Homo sapiens: one gene and its partners. The protein of the gene in region 1 purifies or fractionates together with the protein of each later gene. This does not show direct contact. Each region holds a gene or a part of one and is shown on either strand. Other genes may lie near its edges.

Region 1 (3,609 bases):
TATCAAAGTATTGGAATTATGGGCATGAGCCACAACACATGGCCCCTTTCTCTGCTTCTTCATCTGCACTTCTTTAAATTTTATTTATTCATGGTGGCCACATGCCCCATCCTAGATGAGGAATCATGGCATCCTCATTCCTCTTGGCCATATGTGAATCCTCAAAGTCCTCAATCCCTTATCCATTATTCTAAAATCTAAAAGGCTCTAAAGATGAAAATGTTCTGTCCTAAATTTGAGGCTAACTCATTTGGCAGAAAAACTTGGCATGGCCTGGTGTGAGGCTCTTTATGGTCTTTTATTTATCCCACATTAATATTCATACATTTTGCATCAGGCTATTTATGCATTAGACTGCAGAGTGCTGCCCCCAACCTCCTTGGTGGTTTAACATAATATACAGAATTTGCACCTTCCATAATCTGAAACATTCTGAGTTCTGAAACATACCTGGGCCCCAGGTCTTGGATAAGGAATTGTGAAGCCCAGCTCTCTTTTTCAGCCATAGCTGATAGAAAGGGAGGTTGTGTGACCCAGAACCAAACAGTGGAATGTAAGGGGAAATCTTCTTGAGCTTCTAGAGAAAGATCTTGCTCTTAAAATAAAAAGGTAAAGCCCCTACAGAAAGTGGCCTTGCCCCACTCCTTCCTTCCTGCTCAGGGTCTGGGCTGAGGATGTGGCACCTTCTACCTTGTGACCATGAGGAGACAAGATCGAAAGATTAGCTGAGAATGGTGGGGGAAAAAGGGAAACTTTATGAGCCCCCAAAAGAACTCTGGAATCATAAACCATGCTTCTAGTTAAGTAAATACTGAACTTCCTTATTTTTAATCCAGGATTAATTAGTCTTTCTGTGACTTTCCTCCAAATGAGATTGGCCAGGGACAATAAAATGGTGTCTGAACAGGTGACAAGTAGGGCCCTCCCTCAGCCAACAGAGATAAGAAAGAGCATACACTTGGGTTTGGGATAGATGATGGGTGGATTAATTTGTTTGTTAACTGCAAAGTAACCTCTTCCTGATGAAGGATCAAACAAGAAGCCTATAATACCGGCAGACCACAGAAGGCCCAGGTGCTAGCCTTATCGGGTTGCCAAGAAGAAAGGAGAAGGAGAACAAAAAGGCAGGAGGACTCCCTTGGCAGAGATCCAGAGCAAAGGCAGCTGTTGCTTCTCATGAACACTCCAAAGTTTATCACAGTCACCTGTTACCCTAGCTGGCACAGGTCTTTGAAAGTGTGCTGGGAGTGTGTTTACATGTTTGTGTGTGCTTGTATGTTAAAGGTGCCCAGGTTAATACCAGGTGTATTAAAACGCCCTTGCCTGGCTAGTCCTTGTAGACCTTCTCTGAATGTTTTGGTGAATAAATCTGTTCTTCAGCAACCCTACCTGCTTCTCCAAACTGCCTAAAGAGATCCAGTACTGATGACGCTGTTCTTCCATCTTTACTCCCTGGAAACTAACCACGTTGTCTTCTTTCCTTCACCACCACCCAGGAGCTCAGAGATCTAAGCTGCTTTCCATCTTTTCTCCCAGCCCCAGGACACTGACTCTGTACAGGATGGGGCCGTCCTCTTGCCTCCTTCTCATCCTAATCCCCCTTCTCCAGCTGATCAACCCGGGGAGTACTCAGTGTTCCTTAGACTCCGTTATGGATAAGAAGATCAAGGATGTTCTCAACAGTCTAGGTAACTGACTGGGGTAGGGGAAGCGGGGGGTTGACCCTTGCTCATTTCTCCTGTTCTTAAACTCTAGCTTTGTCTCTATCCCATCCCAAGATCCCAACCAAGCCCAACCCCTGATGAGGGCTTTCTACACTACCCTACCCGTGTTTGAAGTCTTGGCTAAAAGCTGAGGTTTTCCTGATGAGGAGGAAGAGGTGGAGGAGAATGGTAGCTGTAATTTATGAACACTCATTATGAACCAGGTATAATCCAAGTTTTACGTAGATTATTTCATTTAATTCCCACAACCATTTTATGAGGTAAGGACAACTATTACTTCTGCTTTAAAAATGAGGAAACTAACCTTAAAAGCTGATGAGTAGGCTGATTCTGGACACAGTGTCACCTCCAAGGTAGAAGACAATTTGGAAGGGGATAAGGGGATTATGGGGAGGATAGCTCATGGGATGTACCCTTTCTTCTTTCCTACTCAGAGTACAGTCCCTCTCCTATAAGCAAGAAGCTCTCGTGTGCTAGTGTCAAAAGCCAAGGCAGACCGTCCTCCTGCCCTGCTGGTGAGTAACTCCCTGAGAGGGAATGGCGACTACGATGCCCTGTATCCTCCCCTGTCCATCTCCCTGCACCTACGTCTTCCCCCATGTCAGGTCTGTATCACCCTGGCACCCTGGGGCTGAGTCATGACTCTTGGTTCCCAGAGACCCCTTGCCCATTCTTGTTTCCCTGAAGGATGCTACTGGGGGATCTTGGGCTTCTGCCTCTTCCTTTCACCCCTTCACTTCATGCCCCTGTTTCTCAGCCCTTCCTCTCCTCCATTGTCCCATAATGATCACATACTTCATTTCTCTTTCCAATCTATTCCTCTGTTTTGATGGGTAGGGGCCAACAGAGAGGTGAATTTATCACAAATCGAAGAAAACTGAAACTCCCAAGTTCCAAGTCTCTCACTTGCATGAGTCTCTTTCATGGCAGCAAATATTTGTTTCTGTGATTTCTGTATTTCTTTTCTTGAAATGAGCTCGCAAAATTGAATGAGCTTGAGGCCCCACGAAACCTAGCTCTACCCCTGACTGCACAGGGTTGAAAGATGGTTGTGGGTAGCCCTTCCTCCTCTTAAATTCCAAGAGCTCTGATGTCTGTGCTTCATGTGCTCATGCAGGGATGGCTGTCACTGGCTGTGCTTGTGGCTATGGCTGTGGTTCGTGGGATGTTCAGCTGGAAACCACCTGCCACTGCCAGTGCAGTGTGGTGGACTGGACCACTGCCCGCTGCTGCCACCTGACCTGACAGGGAGGAGGCTGAGAACTCAGTTTTGTGACCATGACAGTAATGAAACCAGGGTCCCAACCAAGAAATCTAACTCAAACGTCCCACTTCATTTGTTCCATTCCTGATTCTTGGGTAATAAAGACAAACTTTGTACCTCTCTGTGCTTATGTCATCTCTGTTATTGTCCCCAGCTTGGGGCTCCCCTATCCAGAAAATGTTGTCAGTGTCCCAGTGGTGACATCTCAGTTTGGGAAGTGGGATGGGAAGTTAGGAAAGATATGGGAAGAATGGGAAAAACAAACTGACACTCCAAACCCCCACTTCCCTCATTTTTATTTATTTATTTATTTATTTTTTTCTTTTTTTTCATTTTTTTTTTTTTTATTATACTCTAAGTTTTAGGGTACATGTGCACATTGTGCAGGTTAGTTACATATGTATACATGTGCCATGCTGGTGCGCTGCACCCACTAACGTGTCATCTAGCATTAGGTATATCTCCCAATGCTATCCCTCCCCCATCCCCCGACCCCACCACAGTCCCCAGAGTGTGATATTCCCCTTCCTGTGTCCACGTGATCTCATTGTTCAATTCCCACCTATGAGTGAGAATATGCGGTGTTTGGTTTTTTGTTCTTGCGATAGTTTACTGAGAATG
Region 2 (3,500 bases), on another chromosome or scaffold:
TTTCAGGTTTCCCTTAGTTCATGGCCAGGTAATAATAATCTTAGATGTCTTCATTTACATTTGACAGAGAGTTTTGTTTTTATCATGAACATATAATAAGTTATGTAACAAGGAATAATTGTTTAATTTACACATATTTTACTCAGAATGTGTTTATTCATCATGCACTTGATACATTAATTCCTTGTAAGTACATTAACCCAATGTGAGAAAATCAAACTTCTAAATTTTAAAATGATACATAAAATGGAGAACTTTTGAAGTGCAGTTTATTATATGTATTTCAGATAATGTGAATGAAATGGATAGCCATGCAAAAAGTACTAGTAATATTTTTGTGAAATTAAATATAATTAAACAATGCCATCTTATTGGCTTGAATGACATCAGCTAGTCAGCTTCAAATAGTTTCATATTTCACTAGGTTTTCATGCATCTTCATTTATTAAATAAATATATTTTTCAAAGGACAATTGCTTATTTTTCTTTTTACTTTTAAAAAGAAGAGATTTTCTGGGTAATATTAATTTCTTCATGTGATTTTGACAAATATTATCAAATATTATTTTATATTACTGATAAAATGAAACAACTTGTTTTTTGATGAGCTGAACATATGTGACATTTATAGTGAATTTATAAGACCCTGACAGAGTGCTGAGAGAGTGTGGCAGCATTGGAGTTCTGACAAGCTACAGCAGGAAGAACCAAAACAGAGGTGTTAAGGCCATGCTCTCTCAACAAAGCATCCAAGAAAACAAAACCTCTGTGCCTTTGTCAGACAGGGCTCTCCAGAGAAACAGAACCAATAGGATGTCTGTGTGCCTGTGTGTGTGTGTGTGTGTGTGTGTGTGTGTGTGTGTGTGTGTGTGTGTGTGTGTAGAGAGAGAGAGAGTTTTAAGGAATTGGCTTACCTGATTGTAAGGACTGGCAAGTCCTAGGTAAGAGGTGATATTGCAGCTGGAGTCCAGAGGTTGTCTGGAGGCAAAATTCCTTCTTTCCTAGAGAACTTCAGTTTTCTTTCTTTCTCTTACAGCCTTCAACTGATTGGATGAGGCTCACCCACGTTATAGAGTTTAACCTGCTTTACTCAATGTTTACTGATTTAATATTGATTACCTCTAAAAAATACCTGCACTGCAACATCAAGACTAGTGTTTGACCAAAAGCTGTTTACCATGGCCTAGCCAAGTTGACACATTGCAGTGCCCATTAGCAGTACCATTAGCCGAGGGTTGAGAAAAATATTACATGTCAGCTCATTTAAAATACATTTATTACATGTCTAAAGCAGTATTTAATAAGTATGATATGTGTTTCTGTATCTTTACAGACAAAATCTTTAGTAAAGTAGGTACATGTGTAAGAATCAAGAGAAGCCAAAGCTACTGGGAATGAACAAAGGTATTTAAATTGAGTGACACTGATATTTAATATAAGAATGACCTTAAAATAAATAATTTATGTAGTGAAATACAGCTTCTTTCCTGATTGTTTTTAATCAAACAGAATGAGAAGAAATGGGCTGCTCTAAAGATAAGAGCCATTGGGAGTAGATTAATAAAAGCATTTCTAGATGATGAAGTTTGAGAAAATGTTAGAAAATTCTAACGGTGGGTATTACATATATCAACTCATGATGCCACCAGAAAATATATTATTGTCAGTTGTTTCCTTCAATGAATGGCTTAGAAATACAATGTGTGTCTATGTGTGTGTGGTGTGGCATATTGATGCACACATTTTCAATGTGCTACTGTATGACATATTTATATTTAGAATTGCTTTCTAATATCTTCTTTCCTAGAATCTGAGGTGGTTTATTTTGATGGACAAAGTGCTCTGCTGTATAGACTTGATAAAAAACCTTTAAAACCAATAAGAGACGTTATTTCTTTGAAATTTAAAGCCATGCAGAGCAATGGAATTCTACTTCACAGAGAAGGACAACATGGAAATCACATTACTCTGGAATTAATTAAAGGAAAGCTTGTCTTTTTTCTTAATTCAGGTAAAAAAATACTTGAACTTTTATACCAGTAGTTAAAAAAAATCTGTTTACATTTGTTGGTACTCAGTCTTTTCACAGTTAGATAAAATGACCATATAATTCATCATCTAAACCAGAACACCTTTAAGAAATAAAAAATACACAAGTGATAGTTACTCTGGGACAGTAAGTGCAAAGTAGAACTGCAATGAACAAATGTAAATGAAAATTTAAGAGCATTACTACCAGATGCATGCAATACATACATATCCTAAGTATGATTTCTGTAAACAGCATATATTTTGACAAACTGTGCAAGATCACCATATGTGTGTATAATATATATGTAATATATGATTATCCATATCATAAAGACAATACATCATTATAAAATTATGAGATAATGCTGATAATGAGGTTCTAAGAAAGAAAATATTTGCATTGTAAATCCAAATGTCATGAGTAATAGAAAAAATACTAAGAAAAATTTCAACAAAGTGTAGAATTGAACTTAAAAAAAATAAAAACAGGGTAAGGTTATTGTGTTCAAGATAGGGAGAAAGTGAGAAAACAACTCTGTAAGATGGAAAGTTGGATGCAAACTGTGATGCTCAACTAAAAAAGGGAAGCTGTGATTTTGAACAGAAATAACTGTTTTTTTCCTTCTCCTTTAAGGCAATGCTAAGCTGCCTTCCACTATTGCTCCTGTGACCCTCACCCTGGGCAGCCTGCTGGACGACCAGCACTGGCATTCCGTCCTCATCGAGCTCCTCGACACGCAGGTCAACTTCACCGTGGACAAACACACTCATCATTTCCAAGCAAAGGGAGATTCCAGTTACTTGGATCTTAATTTTGAGGTTATTATAGATATATAGTTTAAATTAAATATAACCTGAAAAATAAGGTAGCTGCATAGAGAAATGCCATTTTATAGTAATTCATAACTAAGTTGACTAATAGTAATAGGTATGGTATGTCTGTCCCGGTACTATGAAACTGTTTATGCCTTCTAATAGGTCAGTTTATTATAATAGATCATCTTTTCCACCTTGGAAAGAAGTAAACAGTCAGTGTTAGGTTTAGGAAATCCACAAATGCAGAAATACCAAAGTAGCAAGCATTGTTATTAAATGTACTCATTTGAATATATTTCATTTGAAATTTCATCTGGTATATTACACTTGTTGTTTGACTATGCAGATTCCTGGGGGATTTTTTTTCTTGTCTTGGTGCAATCCTAACCAACATAGCATTATTTAGGATCACTTTGAGAAGTTAACAAGATATACACCAATAGATTTATTAAATAACAAGAAAAGTCAGATGCTCACATATAAATAATATCCTGATATTTTTTAAGTCATTAATGCTTTTTGCAACCCATTGCCCATATGTATCTAAGCTACACTGTTAAATAGCATCTATTCTTTCAGTCCTTTACAGGACACCTTAAAGTGTATGAAGGATCATAACAAACCAGAAAAACTGTGATATTTACTGGCGTAAG
Region 3 (3,500 bases), on another chromosome or scaffold:
AGCCATCGAGTTAAAGGTTAGTTGAATCAGATGGCTTGGATTAAAAAGTTTAAAAAATTCTTTGACAAATTCTACTAAACAAGTTTAGATAGCCTTTATTTTTTAGAATTATTTTTTATTATTTTGTTTTTTATATATAAAAGGCTTAAACTTTGTTGAAGTTTAAATACTAAATCTCCTTCACATGCAAATTTTGCTATTATTTAAAAAAATTTATATTTCTTCCCACTTTCAGAATTCAGCACTATTCCAGGCTGCTCTGTAGAACACCAACTGCATCGAGAGAGTCTGTAACCCTCAAGCACTCTCCACAGAAAGCAGTGCATGGAGTAAAATCTAGTTACTGGTCCCATCTGCCAGGTAGGGAGCACCCACAGAATGACAGTGGAGTTCAGCAAGCCTCCCCAACAAAGGATGCCAAGAGCATTGCCACGGTCCCTTGGTGAGGTGGGGCTTTGCTTTCAACTTCATGAGCTAGGTGCCCTCCTAGATGGATCTACTTCTTCTGAAGCGGCACTGCAGGAAACACAGGGGTCCCTCCAGCCTCTTCGAAGGGCCAGGTGGACAGTCATTGACTCCCAGCAAATGTGGAAAACAGAGAGTTACTTACTTGAATGGGTGAAGATGGCTCTTTAATTTCTCTTGCTTTTTTACACCTTTCTCTTTATTGTAATAGCTGCAGGAGAGAAGATTAAAAAGTGAGACTTCATAGCCTTGCATTGGATCAAAGTGTTCATTTTATAAAAAGAAAGCAAAATAGAAAGAAGGAAGGCAGTGATGTTGTAAGTATTTTAGCTGAATGTGACTTTTTACTTTCTGCTTAAGTTTAAGCATATTTAGTTTTACTTAAATAGCTTAGGTTATCGTACTCTATGACAATACATTCTATAGGTAAGAGAGAAAAATGAGCCCAGTGCTAATGCCTCTGGCTTGTGCGGAAATGAATTTGGAAAGTGGAGCATGGATGGAAACAAGCTCACCTTTGTTTACTGCAGCTACATTCCTCAGGCTTCCTTCTCTTCAGATGTCCTCTCACTTCTCTTAAATTCTTAATTTTATCTTGCAGAGCTTCAATCTGGAAAACATGTTTTCAAGCACTTACGTATTAAGATCAGGATTTTCTTTACAAAGTACTTTTCTTTTCACCTTGTTTTCTCTGTTCTGTAATAACAGCTATTCATCTGAGATGATACTTAACATAGAAACAAACTGGGCATAGAATATGTCTATATAGACTCTATATTCCAACCCATGTGTTATAGATAAACATTAGCAGATTCCTCTTTTATAACTGAATCATTTTCTCACAGAGATTTCAAAAGACCATTGAGTCAGTTCCCAGTCTCTTCTCATACTCTATATTGTTTTCAGTAGGACTATCATTAAATCACTGGAGAAAGACAAATAACTTTTTTTTTTTGTATTTTTTCACATAATTATAGATGATGTGTATCTGTGGTATGTCCCACCAGACACAGCAGGGCTGGCAGGCCGAGTTTGAGTTTGGAATATATCTGACAGTCACATAGCCATGGCTAACCTCTTTGTCAATGTATGCCTTATGGTCCTTCCACGCTCTGGCCGATTGGTACAGTTCTCTCTCACAATGGATAGAGTCATTGGGAAGAATAAAACACCTGCAAAACAAACCAAAACCATGTGAAATAGGTTTATATTCTAATAGCAGAAAACACTAAAGATAACAAAGAGAAATTTTAATCCTCAAAATCCTTAATGTTGATACATGCAGTAACCGTTGAGCTGATCCAAGACCAGCATCAATGGGAATATTGAGAGGTGACAGCGTGCTGGCAGTCGTGACAGCGTGCTGGCAGTCCTCACAGCCCTCGCTCGCTCTCCGCGCCTCCTCTGCGTAGGCTCCCACTTTGGCGGCACTTGAGGAGCCCTTCGGCCCGCTGCTGCACTGTGGGAGCCCCTTTCTGAGCTGGCCAAGGCCAGTGCCGGCTCCCTCAGCTTGCAGGGAGGTGTGGAGGGAGAGGCGCGAATGGGAACCGGGGCTGCCTGCGGTGCTTGCGGGCCAGCTGGAGTTCCGGATGGGCGTGGGCTTGGCTGGCCCCACACTCGCAGAGGCCGGCCGGCCCTTGCGGCCCCGGGCAGTGAGGGGCTTAGCACCCGGGCCAGCGGCTGCGGAGGTACCAGCAGTACCAGCCCACCGGCGCTGCGCTCGATTTCTCACCGGGCCTTAGCTGCCTTCCCGCAGGGCAGGCCTCGGGACTGCAGCCCGCCATGCCTGAGCCTCCCACCCACTCCATGGGCTCCTGTGCAGCCCGAGCCTCCCCGACGAGCACCACCCCCTGCTCTATGGCTCCCAGTCCCATCGACCACCCAAGGGCTGAGGAGTGCGAGCGCATGGCGCGGGACTGGCAGACGGCTCCACCTGCAGCCCCTGTGCGGGATCCACTAAGTGAAGCCAGCTGGGCTCCTGAGTCTGGTGGGGACGTGGAGTCTTTATGTCTAGCTCAGGGATTGTAAACACACCAATCAGCATCCTGTGTTTAGCTCAAGGTTTGTGAGTGCACCAATTGACACTCTGTATGTAGCTGCTCTGGTGGGGCCTCGGAGAACCTTTATGTCTAGCTCAGGGATTGTAAACACACCAATCAGCACCCTGTGTTTAGTTCAAGGTTTGTGACTGCACCAATCGACACTGTATCTAGCTGCTCTGGTGGGGCCTTGGAGAACCTTTATGTCTAGCTCAGGGATTGTGAATACACCATTTGACACTGTATCTAGCTCAAGGTTTGTAAACACACCAATCAGCACCCTGTGTTTAGCTCAAGGTTTGCGAATGCACCAATCGACACTCTGTATCTAGCTGCTCTGGTGGGGCCTTGGAGAACCTGTGTGTCAAAACTCTGTAACTAACTAATCTGATGGGGAAGTGGAGAACCTTTGTATCTAGCTCAGGGATTGTAAATGCACCAATCAGCACCCTGTCAAAACAGGCCACTCCGCTCTACCAATCAGCAGGATGTGGGTGGGGCCAGATAAGAGAATAAAAGCAGGCTGCCGGAGCCAGCAGTGGCAATCTGCCTGGGTCCCCTTCCACACTGTGGAAGCTCCGTTCTTTCGCTCTTTGCAATAAATCTTGCTACTGCTCACTCTTTGGGTCCACGCCGCTTTTATGAGCTGTAACACTCACCGCGAAGATCTGTAGCTTCACTCCTGAGCCCAGCGAGACCACGAGCCCACTGGGAGGAACGAACAACTCCAGACGCGCTGCCTTAAGAGCTGTAACACTCACGCGAAGGTCTGCAGCTTCACTGCTGAGCCAGCGAGACCACGAACCCACCAGAAGGAAGAAACTCCGAACACATCTGAACATCAGAAGGGACAGACTCCAGATGCGCCACCTTAAGAGCTGTAACACTCACCACGAGGGTCCGCAGCCTCATTCTTGAAGTCAGTGAGACCAAGAACCCACCAATTCTGGACACAATAGGTTCTAGCCACCAGTGAGGACAAAATGTCACATGGGT
Region 4 (3,500 bases), on another chromosome or scaffold:
GACAGTGACACAGTTGGAATGGAGGTGCTGTCCTGGCTTTAGAGGGGGAGATTGCCAAGAAGGTCCCAAAGACCCCGTGAAGACCCTCCGCCCCACGCCGGCTCGGCCTCGAAACAGCTTGAAGAAAGCCACAGGTAACTTCTTATTTGTGCTATTATGTATGGCCACCTTTAATATTTCCGGTGCTCCTTCAAACAACAGGATTTGTGCTTTACAATGGTGAGCTTTGAATGGCCTTCGAATAACACACATAGATACCTGCAGTAGCCACATGTGACAAATTTATTCTCAGGAGCAGTAGCAATTGTAAGACAAACTTCCTTGCAAGTAAATTGCTTTGCTAGGGCCAGCTTGTTGTGAAAGCCAATGCCTTAAACATCAGGGTAGGAAATGCCAGTGGGTTCAGACTTGTGTCACCTGGAGGCACAGCTGTGAAGAGATTCAGATGTAATGATGTACTGTTTGTTTTTACTTGGGCCCATACATCTGAATTTAGGGGGGTTAAAATTGTTTTTTATTTTTTATTTTTTTGAGATGGAGTCTCGCTCTGTCGCCCAGGCTGGAGTGCAGTGGCGCAATCTCGGTTCACTGCAACCTCTGCCTACCTGGTTCAAGCAATTCTCCTGCCTTGGCCTCCGAGTAGCTGGGATTACAGGCGCCTGCCACCATGCCCGGCTGATTTTTGTACTTTTGGTAGAGATGGGGTTTCACCATGTTGGCCAGGCTGGTCTCCAACTCCTGACCTCAAGTGATCTGCCCACCTCGGCCTCCCAAAGTGCTGGGATTACAGGCGTGAGCCACTGTGCCTGGCCATCACTTCATCTTTTTAAGTTCAGTCACAATAAATGCAGCCTAGGTTTTCTTATGAAATTAGATGCTTAAATGATTATATTTTGCCATGAGGTGTTCTCAGGTTTGAAACTCGTAGTTCTTCCCAACATTGTCTGTAAAAATAGATTTTAAAATGACTTTTTAACTACAAAAGTAATGCACATCAATTAAAGAATGTTTGAAAAATATTTAAGGATACATAATCTCATGACTAAATGAGAACTACTGTTGACATTTTGTTATAGAACCTTACTCTCTTTCCTATGTCTGTACATTGATTTTGTTAAAGAAAAATTCATTTATCTCACAAATATTTATTGAACTTCTATATCTGTCAGGCTCTATACTGGGTACTTGGAATAAGTGAGAAAAAAGGCAGACAGAGTCCCTGACTTCATGGAAGGCAGACATTAGAGAGTAATTACAATAATTCATGACAGATACTGGGATGGAGGGAACATGACATGGGGGCTGGTGGATTGTAATCATTTATTTTTGTTTTGTTTCATTTTAGTTTTTGTTTGACAGAAGTTTAAGCATATTGTAGTTTAATAAGTTGAATAGCTTTATAAGGACTAATAGGAAAAACAATGACCACCCTGAAACCCTTTTTCTCATTTTCCCTTCCCATGGGTAGTACTTTAAACTCTTCAGATGAATCTTTTGGAATTTACCTCCATATCTATTGGTTTTTCATTATGGAAGGTGAGAATTTAACTCCCTTTCATCCACTCCTCAACACATGGCTCCTATCCCCCCATCCCTTCCATACAGTTAGACCATATTCTTTATTTACTCAGTATTCAGTGTTTACATTGTAGTAACTATGTAGATAATGTTTACAGCTGAGCCATGTGGTGTACTATGAATAGATTTTCTTTCCTACGCAGCTTTTTGATTCCTTACAGTTAAATCATTGTCTTATGTTTTTCCTTTGCTTAGTTTTCTCTCTTTTTATTGCTATTTCAACCCAACTCTTCTCTGGCTCTCTAAATGTCCCCTCCATATGTTCAGACACAGCATTTTCATCTTCTTGAAGAAGTCTCCCTTGAGCCTTCTCACTTGCCCTACCTGGACGGGACATCCTCTTTTCCTGTCTTCACCCGAGGATCTTAACTTGCCCCTCTCCTGTTGAATTCCCTGTTTCCTGTGTCCCCTGCTCCCTCTTTCTTGGCTTAGCCCCTTGCTTTGCTTGAGCATGTCCTTTAGTAGCTTCATGAGACAATTACATGGGAAGCAAACTTTTTACCACTTTATAGTATGAACACTATTTTTTATTCTAGCTTCAGAAATCTAGGTCAGAAATCACTTTCCTTCAGAATTTTGACAATAGTGCTCAGTTTTTCTCTAGCTTCCAATATTGCTGCTAAAAAAACACCAAAACTTTTCTGACTCCCAGTTTTTTGTGTGTGACTTGAGTAGGTTTTTTTGTCTCCCTCCTCCTTTTATTTTGTCCTTTTAGTGGGATTTTAGGAAGGAGTAAAAAGAAATGCTTTTCCTCTGATATAGTTTGAATGTTTGTCCCCTCCAAATCTCATGTTGCAATGTGATCTTCAATGTGGGAGATGGGGTATCATGGGAGGTGTTTGGGTCATGGAGGTTGATCCTTCATGAATGGCTTGGTACCCTCCTTGCGGTAATAAATGAGTTCTTGCTCTGTTAGTACACGAGAGCTGGTTGGTTGGAAGAGCCTGGCACCTTCTCCCTTCCCTCTTGCTCCCTCTCGCTCCCTCTCTTACCATGTGACACACTGGCCCTCTTTTCACCTTCCGTCATGAGTAGAAGCTTCCTGAGGTCCTGACCAGAAGCAGTTGCTGACACCATGTTTCTTGTACAGCCTACAAAACTGTGAGCCAAATAAACCTCTTTTCTTCACAAATTACCCAGTCTCAGATATTCCTTTATTTCAATACAGAATGGACAAACATACCCTGAATTCACTGTCATTATAAAAAAAATACTATTTTTACAACTTTTTCTATTTTAGAGACAGGGTCTTGCTCTGTAACCCAGGCTGGAGTGTAGTGGCATGATTACTGCTCACAACCTTGGACTCCTGGACTCAAGTGATCCTCCCACCTCAGCATCCCAAAGTGCTGGGGTTACAGGCAGAACCACTGCACTCGACCTGGAACTTATTTTTTATTGAATAACCTATAATGGACAACCTTCCATGTCATGAAATATTCTACAATACTACTTAATGGCTTGAGAGAATGTGAGTTATTGAACACCATCCTCTACTGTTGGTCACTTAGGTTGTTTGTAATTTTTCACTATTATAGATAATATATGAATATGCATCTTTTCCTGTTAAATTTTTGCACTCATTTCTGATTATTCACTAGAATAAATTTCTTGAAGTGTAATTGTAGGGTCAAAAGATTCTGAGTATTTTGATACATGTTGCCAAATTATCCTTTGAAAAAAATGCAATTTGCACAGTCACCGTGGTATATGAGCAAAGCATTTCCTTACATCCTCAATCTTCCCCCCTTTGCCGCCCTTTGTTTTTATTTCCTTTGCTTAGAATAGCATTCCACTTGCACATGATTCAGTAACTTGTTTTTTTCTTTAGTGTCTTAAGAGAGAATAACGGCCGGGCGCGGTGGCTCACGTCTGTAATCCCAGCACTTTGGGAGGCCGAGGCGGGTGGATCACAAGGTCAG

What was found.
Region 2: the proteins of RETNLB (region 1) and CNTNAP3 purify together in Homo sapiens (affinity purification with mass spectrometry; one large-scale study listed by BioGRID and IntAct). This does not show direct contact.
Region 3: the proteins of RETNLB (region 1) and SULF1 purify together in Homo sapiens (affinity purification with mass spectrometry; one large-scale study listed by BioGRID and IntAct). This does not show direct contact.
Region 4: the proteins of RETNLB (region 1) and EMILIN2 purify together in Homo sapiens (affinity purification with mass spectrometry; one large-scale study listed by BioGRID and IntAct). This does not show direct contact.

The regions. Positions count from the first base shown.
Region 1 is NC_000003.12:108,755,138-108,758,746, reverse strand, and holds RETNLB (resistin-like beta isoform 1 precursor), read left to right. Parts: upstream 1-1,336; 5' UTR 1,337-1,561; coding exon 1,562-1,688; intron 1,689-2,158; coding exon 2,159-2,239; intron 2,240-2,841; coding exon 2,842-2,969; 3' UTR 2,970-3,109; downstream 3,110-3,609. UniProt on the Homo sapiens protein: Probable hormone.
Region 2 is NC_000009.12:39,176,668-39,180,167, reverse strand, and holds part of CNTNAP3 (contactin-associated protein-like 3 isoform 1 precursor), read left to right. Parts: intron 1-1,807; coding exon 1,808-2,011; intron 2,012-2,665; coding exon 2,666-2,850; intron 2,851-3,500.
Region 3 is NC_000008.11:69,625,347-69,628,846, reverse strand, and holds part of SULF1 (extracellular sulfatase Sulf-1 isoform 1 precursor), read right to left. Parts: intron 1,638-3,500; coding exon 1,541-1,637; intron 1,076-1,540; coding exon 981-1,075; intron 677-980; coding exon 611-676; intron 1-610. UniProt on the Homo sapiens protein: Exhibits arylsulfatase activity and highly specific endoglucosamine-6-sulfatase activity. It can remove sulfate from the C-6 position of glucosamine within specific subregions of intact heparin.
Region 4 is NC_000018.10:2,885,006-2,888,505, forward strand, and holds part of EMILIN2 (EMILIN-2 precursor), read left to right. Parts: coding exon 1-134; intron 135-3,500. UniProt on the Homo sapiens protein: May be responsible for anchoring smooth muscle cells to elastic fibers, and may be involved not only in the formation of the elastic fiber, but also in the processes that regulate vessel assembly. Has cell adhesive capacity.